2 separate regions of the Homo sapiens genome follow, and region 2 is linked to region 1. Evidence: fine-mapped expression QTL. Tissue or cell type: whole blood. Region 1 holds a variant in brackets; the other region holds the start of a gene. All regions are shown on one strand. Distances are between the middles of the regions.

Evidence for each region. PIP is the estimated chance that this variant, and not a neighbour inherited with it, causes the effect.
Region 2: it holds the start of FAM110A, and the variant in region 1 is the best candidate, but not a certain one, in a credible set for the expression of FAM110A in whole blood (INTERVAL, PIP 0.57).

Annotation. Positions count from the first base shown.
Region 1 is chr20:876,556-881,929 of GRCh38, reverse strand. It overlaps ANGPT4 (angiopoietin 4), which reads left to right. Exons shown (of 9, transcript NM_015985.4): 5 at 644-759; 6 at 2,082-2,183; 7 at 3,603-3,769. Among named protein-coding and RNA genes, the nearest start is that of ANGPT4, 37 kb to the left of the region's middle. RefSeq lists a silencer at 2,887-3,087. The variant C/G (reference allele first, on the strand shown) is at 2,277.
Region 2 is chr20:830,802-836,175 of GRCh38, reverse strand. It overlaps FAM110A (family with sequence similarity 110 member A), which reads right to left and starts at 2,461. Exons shown (of 2, transcript NM_001042353.3): 1 at 2,225-2,461. RefSeq lists an enhancer at 445-544 and a silencer at 2,061-2,210.

The sequences.
Region 1 (5,374 bases):
GGAAGTGCCTCACTGGAGTTCAGGCCCCAGTAACTCTCTCCCAGAAAACTCTAGCAGCCTCCTCTCTGGCCTCCCAGCTTTGAGTCTCATCCCCTCCAGGCCCCCCTCCACACTCTGGACAGAGTGCTCTTTCTCAGCCCAGAGAATCTGGGCTCCGCAGCCTGGCACTCACGGCTGACTTGGCCCTGCTGAAATCTCAGCTTCGTCTCTCCTTTTCCTTCCCCACCTTCTCTGTGCCAGCCTTGTTCTACCCTCTCAGTTGCATCATACAGCAAGCAGCCTCCCTGGTCTCAACTCCTCTCTCACGGTGTGAGTCATTTCCTCTCCTTGGCCTCAGCCTTAGTTCCCCTCCCCATGCCCTGTCCTCTGCACACACTAGGGCCCTTCCTACCTTGGGGCCTTTGCATATGCTGTTTCTTCCGCCTGGAACACCTTCCCCTTCTCCACTGGGCAACTCCTGCTCATTACACAGGTTCCAGCTTACTGTCACCTCCTCTACGAAATCTTCCCAGGTCTGACTCATCTCCCTGTCCCCAGCACCTCCCAACCCAGAACCTGGCACAAAGCAGGCAGGCATGCCCACTTGGCCCCTTCTCTCTTTCCTTGCCCACCTCCAACTGACTTTTGTGTTGTCCCTTTGCAGCCTTCATAATGGCAGGTGAGCAGGTGTTCCAGGACTGTGCAGAGATCCAGCGCTCTGGGGCCAGTGCCAGTGGTGTCTACACCATCCAGGTGTCCAATGCAACGAAGCCCAGGAAGGTTAGGGGGCTCCCTGGGAACTGTGGCTGTTAGAGGGTGCTGAGCCAAGGGCTTCCCAAACAGACACCCCGCACCCCATCGGGATCAGGCTTTGTCCAGTATCTGAAATACCAGAGGTGTAGGGGTGGCTTTGACTTCCCAGCAGTCAGGGATCAGATTGTGGGGATAAGCAGAAGTTCCCAAAGTTGGAAGTGCATCCTTAACCAGCATCACTTCAGAGGTGCTTTAACTGGAACAGCACAAAATAGTTCAGTGTTGGTTAAGATGATGATAGCTGATATTACAAACAACCCCCAAAATTCCAGGGCCTTAGCCCAAAGACGTTTCTTTCTAGTTTACATATAGTCCAGTTGAAGGCAGGAGTTGGGGTTCTGCTCCATGTGGGAAATTAGAAACCAGGGCTAATAGAGGTGCCACCATTTTCAATCAGTGGCTCCCAAGGTTGTCCTAAAATTTAAGGTCAAGTCATCCGATAAGAAGGGTGACAGAGAAGAGCACGGATGTCAGGAGGGAGGGTCTGAGAGCCAGGCCTAGAAGGGAAACAACTAGCAGATTCCTACTTCATAATTCCCTTTTTTTTTTTGAGACAGGGTCTTGCTCTGGTGCCCAGGCTGGAGTGCAATGGCATGATCACAGCTCACTGCAGCCTTGACCTCCTGGGCTCGAGTGATCCTCCTGCCTCAGCCTCCCAAGTAGCTGGGACCACAGACACATGCCACCATGGCCTGGCTAATATTTTTAAACATTTTGTAGGGACAAAGTCTCCCTGTGTTTCCCAGGCTGGTCTGAAACTCCTGAGCTCAAGCGATCCTCCCTCCTCGGCCCTCAAATTGCTAGTATTACCATTGCTCTATTTCCTTTCACCCCCTCTTAATATACTAAGGAGAATGCCTCTGTTTGTCTCCAGGTTGTCTTTTACACTTCTCACACACCTGCTAACCTCTCCTTTCAACAAAAAGAGGTCGAGCTTCCGTTTACCTAGTACTGCCAGGCACTGTTCTAAACACTTTACGTGACTCATCTCGTTTAATTTTCACAACCCCAGTTGGTAGATGAGAGACTGAGGCACAAAGAGGTTAAGGTATGAATCTCCATTTTACAAATGAGAGGAAGGCTCTGAGAGGTCATTCCTTACCCACCACTTTAGAAAAATGATGACAATGGGTGGGGAATTTAAGCCTGGATCTTTCTGATGCCCAGGACCCCCAGGCTCACCTGTTGCTCTGTGGGGGTCTGTCTGCTTAGCCACATTTGGGCTAGCACAGGCCTGGCCTCTGGCTACCTCCAAGGGCTCCCAGCTGTGCCTTGCCCACCCCCTCCAGGTGTTCTGTGACCTGCAGAGCAGTGGAGGCAGGTGGACCCTCATCCAGCGCCGTGAGAATGGCACCGTGAATTTTCAGCGGAACTGGAAGGATTACAAACAGGTAGCCCTGCTGCCTTGGGGAGGGGCCATTCTGCTCTGAAACCTGGGGCTGGGGCTGGGCTGTTGGAAGGGGACTGCTTTGCCCTCATTCCTC[C/G]CCCAGAAAAAATCAACTCATCTAAAGCTGACAGTGCACATCTGCTTTATGGGACCCCATCACCTGAATTTGAATGTTCTTTCTGAAAGTTCTGACATATGTTCTAAGAAAAAAAGTTTAGCTTTATTTTTGTTTTAATTTTTTTTAAAAAAATACATATACATTTCTAATTTTTTAAAGAATACAAAGGAGGAGACAGAATAAAAATCCCCCCAGTCAACCCTGACTGCGTTGCTTTAATGAAGTTTCTTGTCTTTTCATACGTCTATGATCATATCTGCAGGAGAGATTCATTAACGAGGAATTGCAGGCCCAAAGATCACATGTATTTTATCAGATGAGAAGCCCGATTGTTTTCCAATTTTTTAATTAGGTTTTGAATAAAGGATTTTTTGCCAAGCTGACTTAAAATACTTAAAAGCTCTTAAAGTTTTCAAAGCCAAAGAAATAGAAAAAGATACCCACAAAGTGATACAGCAGTTCTATTATTTGCGTCTGCTTGCTGTTCATTTAAGGAATACTTAAAAATAAATACCAAATTAAGTTATGAGTGTTTTGAACTAATTGGGCTTTAAACAACCATTAAAATGGCAAGGAGGAATAGGGTGTCCAGGTGCAGAAATACACAAAAGAACCCTGAATATTAACCATCAGGCTAACCCGCATTGCATCGTGACTAAATTGGGGAGCGGGCCTTGGGTGTGCCCCTGTCCTTGGTGCTGAATTCTTGTTCTGTCCAAGGGCATTGGGACATGACATTCCCCACACTCTCAGTTTTACATTTCTGTGTTGCTGAAATCTTGCAGTGGCTGCGCTGTCACTGAACAAAGTTTGCTCTACTATTTATGTAGCTGATTGAAATATTTTATTTAATTTTTGTTGAGGTTTAACGTACATGTGTCTAAGCGCACAAATAAAGTGTAAGGCTCAGTGAGCCTTTAGATATGTATTTAACCACGTGACCACCATTCAGTGCTAGATGTACAACACTCCCAGCACCCCAGAAGCCCACTTTGTGCCCCCTCCCAGTCAATACTCCACCAAAGGTAGTCACCAAATATTACTTTTTCCTGTTCTTGAACTTCAGAGGAATGTGATTTCAATAACTTTTAACAGGCTTTTACACTTACAAAAGCCTTAGTCTTTTCCCTCTAGCAGGTGGAGGGCTCCTACTCCCAGTCCTGCCTACACTGTACTTATGAACTCGATCATTAAGCACAGTGGTTTTGTATAAGTAGCCCTGGAGCCTGGCCCAGCCCAGCTCCTCAGCCAGGGACATGGCCTCCTCCTCAGCATGAGTCTCACCCCACGCTCCCCTCCCTATAGGGCTTCGGAGACCCAGCTGGGGAGCACTGGCTGGGCAATGAAGTGGTGCACCAGCTCACCAGAAGGGCAGCCTACTCTCTGCGTGTGGAGCTGCAAGACTGGGAAGGCCACGAGGCCTATGCCCAGTACGAACATTTCCACCTGGGCAGTGAGAACCAGCTATACAGGTGGGTTCGGGGCCCAGGCCGTTGTGGGGGCTGGGGTCTTCAGCTAGTGGGCGGGCTGGGGTCCCCAGGCTAGTGTCTACAGAGTCTGCTCCAACGGTCAGTCTCTGGGTGTCTCCTGTTCCTACCATCTGTCCCCCATTTGGGTGCACGTCATGGGATCTGGAGGTGGCTGGTTAGCACTCAGCATGTCCTAGCCACTGGGTGGAGTGGAAAGAATGTCATTGGTGCTGCCATCCGAGGAGCAAGAAGGGGTCTTCCAAGGTCAGTCACCCCAAGTCAGCCTTTTTACAGAGACCCAGAAGCAAAAGGAGGTGACTTGCCCAGCCTGTCCTATGCCCTGGGGCTGGGTGGAAGGGTCCCTGGGCCAGAAGTTGAAATTCCTGCACTCATTGTGGCCTTGCTCCAGCTTGCTTTGGGAACTTGGACAAGTCAGTCTGGCTTCTCTGAGCTTCTGCTTCTTCAATAGCAGGATGAGCTTAAACATGACGATCTTGTAAGATCATCAAGGTTTCTCACCCCTTCCTCAGCCTGGTTCTTGGTATATTTGGGAAAAGGAACTAGCATTTATTGAGCACCTACTGTGTTCCAGGCACCATTATTCCATTTAATCTTCCCCACAACACTTTGAAGTAGGCATTACTGTACCTACTTTAGTAATATGGAAACTGAGATGCCAAGTTTAAGTATCCTGCCCAAAGTTACAAGTTAAATGAGCTGGAATTTGAACTCAGATCTCCCTGCTGTCAAAACTCATGATGTCTCCACAACATGATATTGCCTCTCAGAGAAATTTAAGGATCTTTTAGATAAGCCTGGGTCCTGGCTATCTCTGAACCAGGATTCACACTCACAGGGCTGCAAAAAATCTCACGTGTCATCTGGTTCTTCATAGATTCCCTCCATAGTTGCAATCATCATCCAGCCGTGCTGGAATACCTCCACTGGTGGGAAGGTCGCTTCCCCACAAGGAATCTCTGAATGACTCTCTGTCCTCCTGAACTTTATGCCTGATTCCACTTCTGGGAACTTCTCAGTGATATGCCCCCACTGTTTCCTCCAGCTGAGTCCCATTTAAGCCACTGGCCACCAAAGCAAAGGCTTTTTTGAGGCAGGGTCTCACTCTGTTGCCCAGGCTGGAGTGCAGTGGCATGATCACAGCTCACTGTAGCCTTGACCTCCCAGACCTCCCAGGCTCCAGTGACCTTCCCACCTCAGCCTCCCAAGTAGCTGGGATTACAGGCATGCACTACCATGCCCAGCTGATTTTTGTATTTTTTATAGAAACAGGGTTTCCCTATGTTGCCCAGGTTCTGACATCCCTCCTTATGGGATCCATACCAACCTGATAATGCAAGGTCCAGAGCTGAATGAAAAATTCCCTGGATGTCCCCCTACTCCTCACACCTGACCAGTGAGTAGCTACAACACTATGCTGAGTCCCATTTAAGCCACTGGCCACTAAAGCAAAGGCTTAAATCCCGACTCCATCCCTACTTCCCTGAGTGACCCTGAGCAAGTCCCTTCACGGTTTCATCTGTAGAATGGGTGCTTTAGGCATACCTACCTCAAAAAGGGTGTGATGAGGCCTGAATGAGATACTGCACA
Region 2 (5,374 bases), 46 kb after region 1:
TAAACCTCTCTTGTGCTCAGTTTCCCCTCTGCAAGATGGAAATAAGAACAGCAGTAATTACCTTATATCACAGAGTTGAGGGAATTAAATGAGTTCATACTTGTAAAGTACTTAGAACATAGTAAATGCTCAAGAGGTGTTAGTGATTTTTATTCTTTGGTGAGGGGGTGGGAGGTGTGGTTTCCAAAGGTTATAATTTTCATGACATTCTACACCCAACCCGCCCCCTTCCTCCCACCTGCTTCTTTCTTTCCCTTCAGCAGAAGCCTGGCCTAGATTTGGGGAGGCCCTTGCCTGCCCCAGAGGAGATTGGGAAGGCTCCAGGCAGTGGCAAGGGGCCAGCCAGCAGGGCAGCCCCAGCTCAATTTCAGCCCAGCTGTCCAGGTCAGGGACACCCAGCTGGGCCACCTCCAGAGCCACACCAGGCCCTGAGCTATTTCTGGAGGCCTCCCAGACGCTGGTGCCCTGGCCTGCCCAGGAGTCAGCCTTGCTCAGGGTGGCCTTGCACTAACATTAGGAAGGGAGAAGGGAGTAGGCTGTGGAATGGGTGTGGATGTGGACATCTAGGCCCACTGATACCAAGTTGATCTTCTAGGCCTAGGTCTGCACTTGAGGTTGCAAAATGGGGATGAAGGATTTTGCAGTGAGGACAGAATGGAAGATAACACATGCAAGGTCTTGGGGAAGGGCCTGGCACGCAGGATTAGAAAGGGGAGGGGGAGGCAGATCCACAGCCAAGCCCACTTCCTATCCTAGACTGCCCTCTGCCCAGGCCTGAGTGCACCATCATGACTTCTTAGCTCAGCCCAGAGACTGAAGAAACTTACTCAATGTCACAGAGCAACTCAGGGACAGGGCAGTGGTTTCATGATTTATAAATATGCATATATATACACATATATACATATATACACACATACATATATATACATATATGTGTGTGTGTATATATGTGTGTGTGTATATATATATATAGAGAGAGAGAGAGAGAGAGAGAGAGAGAGAGAGAGATGGGAGGACTGCACTTCATGAAGGCTGTGTGAGTTAACCTCCTGCCTGCAGAACACACAAATGGTCCATGAACGTTAGTTTCAGTCTTGATTACTGAGGTTTTGGGCATCCCTAAATTTTGCACTGGCTCAATTGCCTCAGCCCCTGCCTTGCATCACAGTGGGAGAAGATGATACATTTGCTAATAAGTAAAAAAACCAAAACATGCAAGAACCAGAGCAGGGCTTATGAAGTCAATAAATAATATTTGTTGAAAGAATAAAAGAAAGCCTTGTTTTCTTTCTGAGTCCTCGGAGATCCTGTCCCCCAAAGCCAGGGGCAGGCTCCAGAGGAGAGAGGATATGTAACTCCCTTATGAAGAGATTGAAGACTCTCAAAATGCATGATTCTGTGTGTCAAGGATTCTAAGATTGAAGCCAGAGGGACTAGGAGCTAACCACTGCATTGTCTGACTGTGACTTCGAAAAGGGGCTTAACTTCTTAGAACCTCCGTTTCCCCACCTACAAAAGGAGACTGACAATAGCAACCTAGGGGGCAGGGGGTGTCCCCAGGAGACACAGCAGGGTCTGGCCTAGGTCAGCTGCTCCACCTGGGGGGATTCCGGCCCCACTCCCAATTCCAAAGTCTCTGGTGACTAGTGGCTTTGGTTTAGGGACTGGCTCTATTCCCTTCCCCAAACTGGGGATGATTCCCAAGAGGCCAGCAGCGGCTCTGGGGGCTGGAGAATCTGCTGCCCCTGCATCCAGCCCAGAAATGTCAGTCCCGTCCGATCCCCAAAGAGTGGTCCTCTGTCCCCGTAGACAGAAAGGCGCCAAATGAGCCGAGTCCAACCCCGGACTGCGGAGAAGGAAAGACAGACGCCCAAAGGGGGTATCCCGAGGACAGTGTGGGGCGCGGGGATATGTGATCCAGCCAGGGGTCTACAGGTCCCTGCCGATAAAACGCTGGGAAAATGACTACCAGTTGCCCGTCTGGGCCTCTCAAGGCAAGTCCAGATGTGACTAGACTAGGGGGCTGCGAGGTGGGGCAGAAAGACTTGAACTGGATTCTCCGCCAGAGCTCGCCGGGCCGGGACACTTGCCTCTCTGAGCCTCAGAGTCCTCATCTGTGAAATGACACGCAGGTACGACGCGGGGAGAAAGCAGACAGCAGACGCTCGGGGAACGGGGCCCCCAGACCCGGGGTCGCACCCGGACCCACCCGCGCCCTCACCTGGAGCCCGCGCTAGGCGTGTCCCGGCTCCTCTCGCGCAGGCTTTGGAGAGGCTGACAGCTCGGACCCGGGCCGGTAGTGGCCGCTCCCAACGACGCCCAGGAGGCCCCAGCCCCGCGTGGGCACCTTTGGGGTCCCCTTTGGAGCTGCCCTCCGCGGTCGAGCTGAGCGGGTGGCCCTCACTGTCGAAGGCCCCCACCGCAGGGAAAGTCCCTGGGGCGCCGTGGAAGGGGAAGTGAGCACGCCGCCCCCCTTCACACCAGAATGGTTCGCCCCGGACTTCCTGATTGGTTCCTCGCTTCCGTTCGAACGGCGCGCCGCCAGGGTTGCCAGGCGACCGCTTAGCTTCCCCCGCCCGAAGGAGAGGCGCTGCTCAGCAGCTCCGCCCGCTCCTCCCAGCCGGCCCCACCTTCTTCCTGCCGCCGCTTCAGCCCCGGCGCCTGGTTCTTTCCCTTCCTCCTCCTCCCTCCCGCGGCCAGCTGGGACTTCCTCTAGGACCCCAGCTGGAAGAGCTCCAGTTAGAGGGCCCTGGCTGGTTCCTAGTCCTGACTTTGACGCTAACTCCCTATGTGACCCGGTGCAAGCCCCTTCCTTTCTCTGTTCTCCTAACTGCATGATGATGAGTGAGTTAATTTTAAAATGTGCATACCCAGCAGTCCCGAAATTTACAAAGGAAATGACCAAAGATATGAGCAAAGATTAATATTGCTCAGCCTTATTCATCATAGCAAAATAATGGAAACAACTTCAATGCCTCTTGAAAGGGATTGGTTATATAATTCCATCCTGTGGAGGAGCTAACTTAATTGAGCTTTTTGCATGCCGGGTAGCTTTACAGAACAAGTCTTGTCAAGGCTTATGACATAACCCTCTAAAAGTACTTTTAATTATTAACACTTTATTTATTTCTTTATCTTTTTCTTTTCTTTTTTTTTTTTTTTTTTTGAGATGGAGTCTCACTCTGTCGCCCAGGCTGGAGTGCAGTGGCAGGATCTCAGCTCACAGCAGCCTCAATCTCCTGGGGTCAAGCAATCTTCCCACCTCAGCCTCCCAAGTAGCTGGGACTACAGGTGTGCACCACCACACCCGGTATTTTCTGTATTTTTTGTAGGGATGGGGTTTTGCCATGTTGCCCAGACTGATCTTAAACTCCTGAGCTCTAGCAATTCTACCAACTCAGCCTCCCAAAGTACTAGGATTACAGGCATGAGCCACGCCACCTAGCCTAATTTTTCCCACTTTCTGATGAGGAATATTATGCAGCCATTAAAAGTGAAGTAGCTACCAGGAGCAGTGGCTCACACCTGTAATCCCAGCACTTTGGGAGGCTGAGGCGACCAGATCACCTGAAGTCAGGAGTTCAAGACCAGCCTGGCCAACGTGGTGAAACCTCGTCTCTACTAAAAATACAAAAATTAGCCAGGCGTGGTGCCACATGCCTGTAATCCCAGCTACTCAGGAGGCTGAGGCAGGAGAATAGATTGAACCTGGGATGTGGGGGATGCAGTAAGCTGAGATCATGCCACTGCACCCCAACCTGGGCAAGAGATCATCTCAAAAAGATAAAAATAAAAGTGAAGTAGCTAGAAGATATTTAAAGATAGGGGGAAATGCTAAGTATTAAACATTGGTTTATTTATGTTTTTTAGAGACAGGGTCTAGCTCTGTTGCCCAGGGTGGAGTGCAGTGGTGCAATCATAGCTCACTGTAACCTAGGTTGAAGCAATCCTCACACCTCAGCCTCCAGAGTAACTAAGACTACAGGCCCGCATCACCATGTCAAGCTACGGGTCTCGCTATGTTGCCCCAGGCCAGTCTAGAACTCCTGGCCTCAAGTGATCCTCCTGCTTTGGCCTCCTGAATTTCTAGGATTACAGGCATAAGCCAATGCACCCCTCCCAAATTTTTTTGAAGTACAGTATGCTTCAAAACACTATGTACAGCATAAATATGTATTAAATACATATGTATATGTGTATAATCATCTATAATCACAGCAGTTAATTTCTTCTTTGTGTTTTTGTGAATTTTCCAAATTTCCAATACTTGAACATGTCAAAAAAGTATATTTTTAGGGGGATTAGAATGAATTAACTCTAAGGGCCTTTAAGGTGAGGAAATTTTATAGCAGTCAGTCTGAATTGCTCAATTTGGAACCAGCTTCTCTGTTTCATTCCAGCTGGTGTCTTTTATTCTTTGTTTGGATTGCCAATAATTGAGAACTTACTGCGTAAACCCCTGGGTGGGCAGGGGAGGGAGCTAATAATATATCAATAGCTAATAATGATTGTACACTCTGGCATGGACACCAACCAAATCAGAGCCAACCACTGTCATAAACAGGGAGTCTGCTGTATCCGTGAGGACCAGCTAAATATCAATCCTGGCCCTGTGCCCTCTGCTACATTGTGTTAGGGCTTTATACACATCATCTCATTGGACTTCATGACTATCTAAGGCGAGAGATCCTGCTATTATTCCCATTATATAGATGAGAAAACTAAGGTCGGTCTGGATCCAGAATGAATTCTCTGATCCACTCTGTTACATTCCCTTGTAAACATGTGAGAACTGTTTGGGAGTAACAGTGAGGTAAGGCAAGGGGGATCCTGTGATCCTATAAGACACAAGAGAAGATTGAGCAGGTAGCTTCAGCCTAGGGAGACTTCTTTTTTTTTTTTTTTTTTTTTTTTTGAGACAGAGTTTCACTCTTATCGCCCAGGCTGGAATGCAATGGCACGATCTCAGCTCCCTGCAACCTCTGCCTCCCAAGTTCAAGTGATTTTCCTGTCTTAGCCTCCTGAGTAGCTGGGATTACAGGTGCCCGCCACCATACCCGCTAATTTTTTGTATTTTTAGTAGAGACAGGGTTTCAGTATGTTGGTCAGGCTGGTCTTGAACTCCTGACCTCAGGCGATCCACCCACCTCGGCCTCCCAAAGTGCTGGGATTACAGGCGTGAGCCACCACGTCCAGCCCTAGGGAGACCTCTTTAAGAAAAAATTACAGATATGAAATTAAGTAATAAAGTGAAGATTTGGTTAGAAAGAGACAAGAAACCACAATAAGGTGGCTCATGCCTGTAATCCCACCACTTTGGGAGGTCGAGGTGGAAGGAGTGCCTGAGCCCAGGGGCTTCAGACCAGCCTGG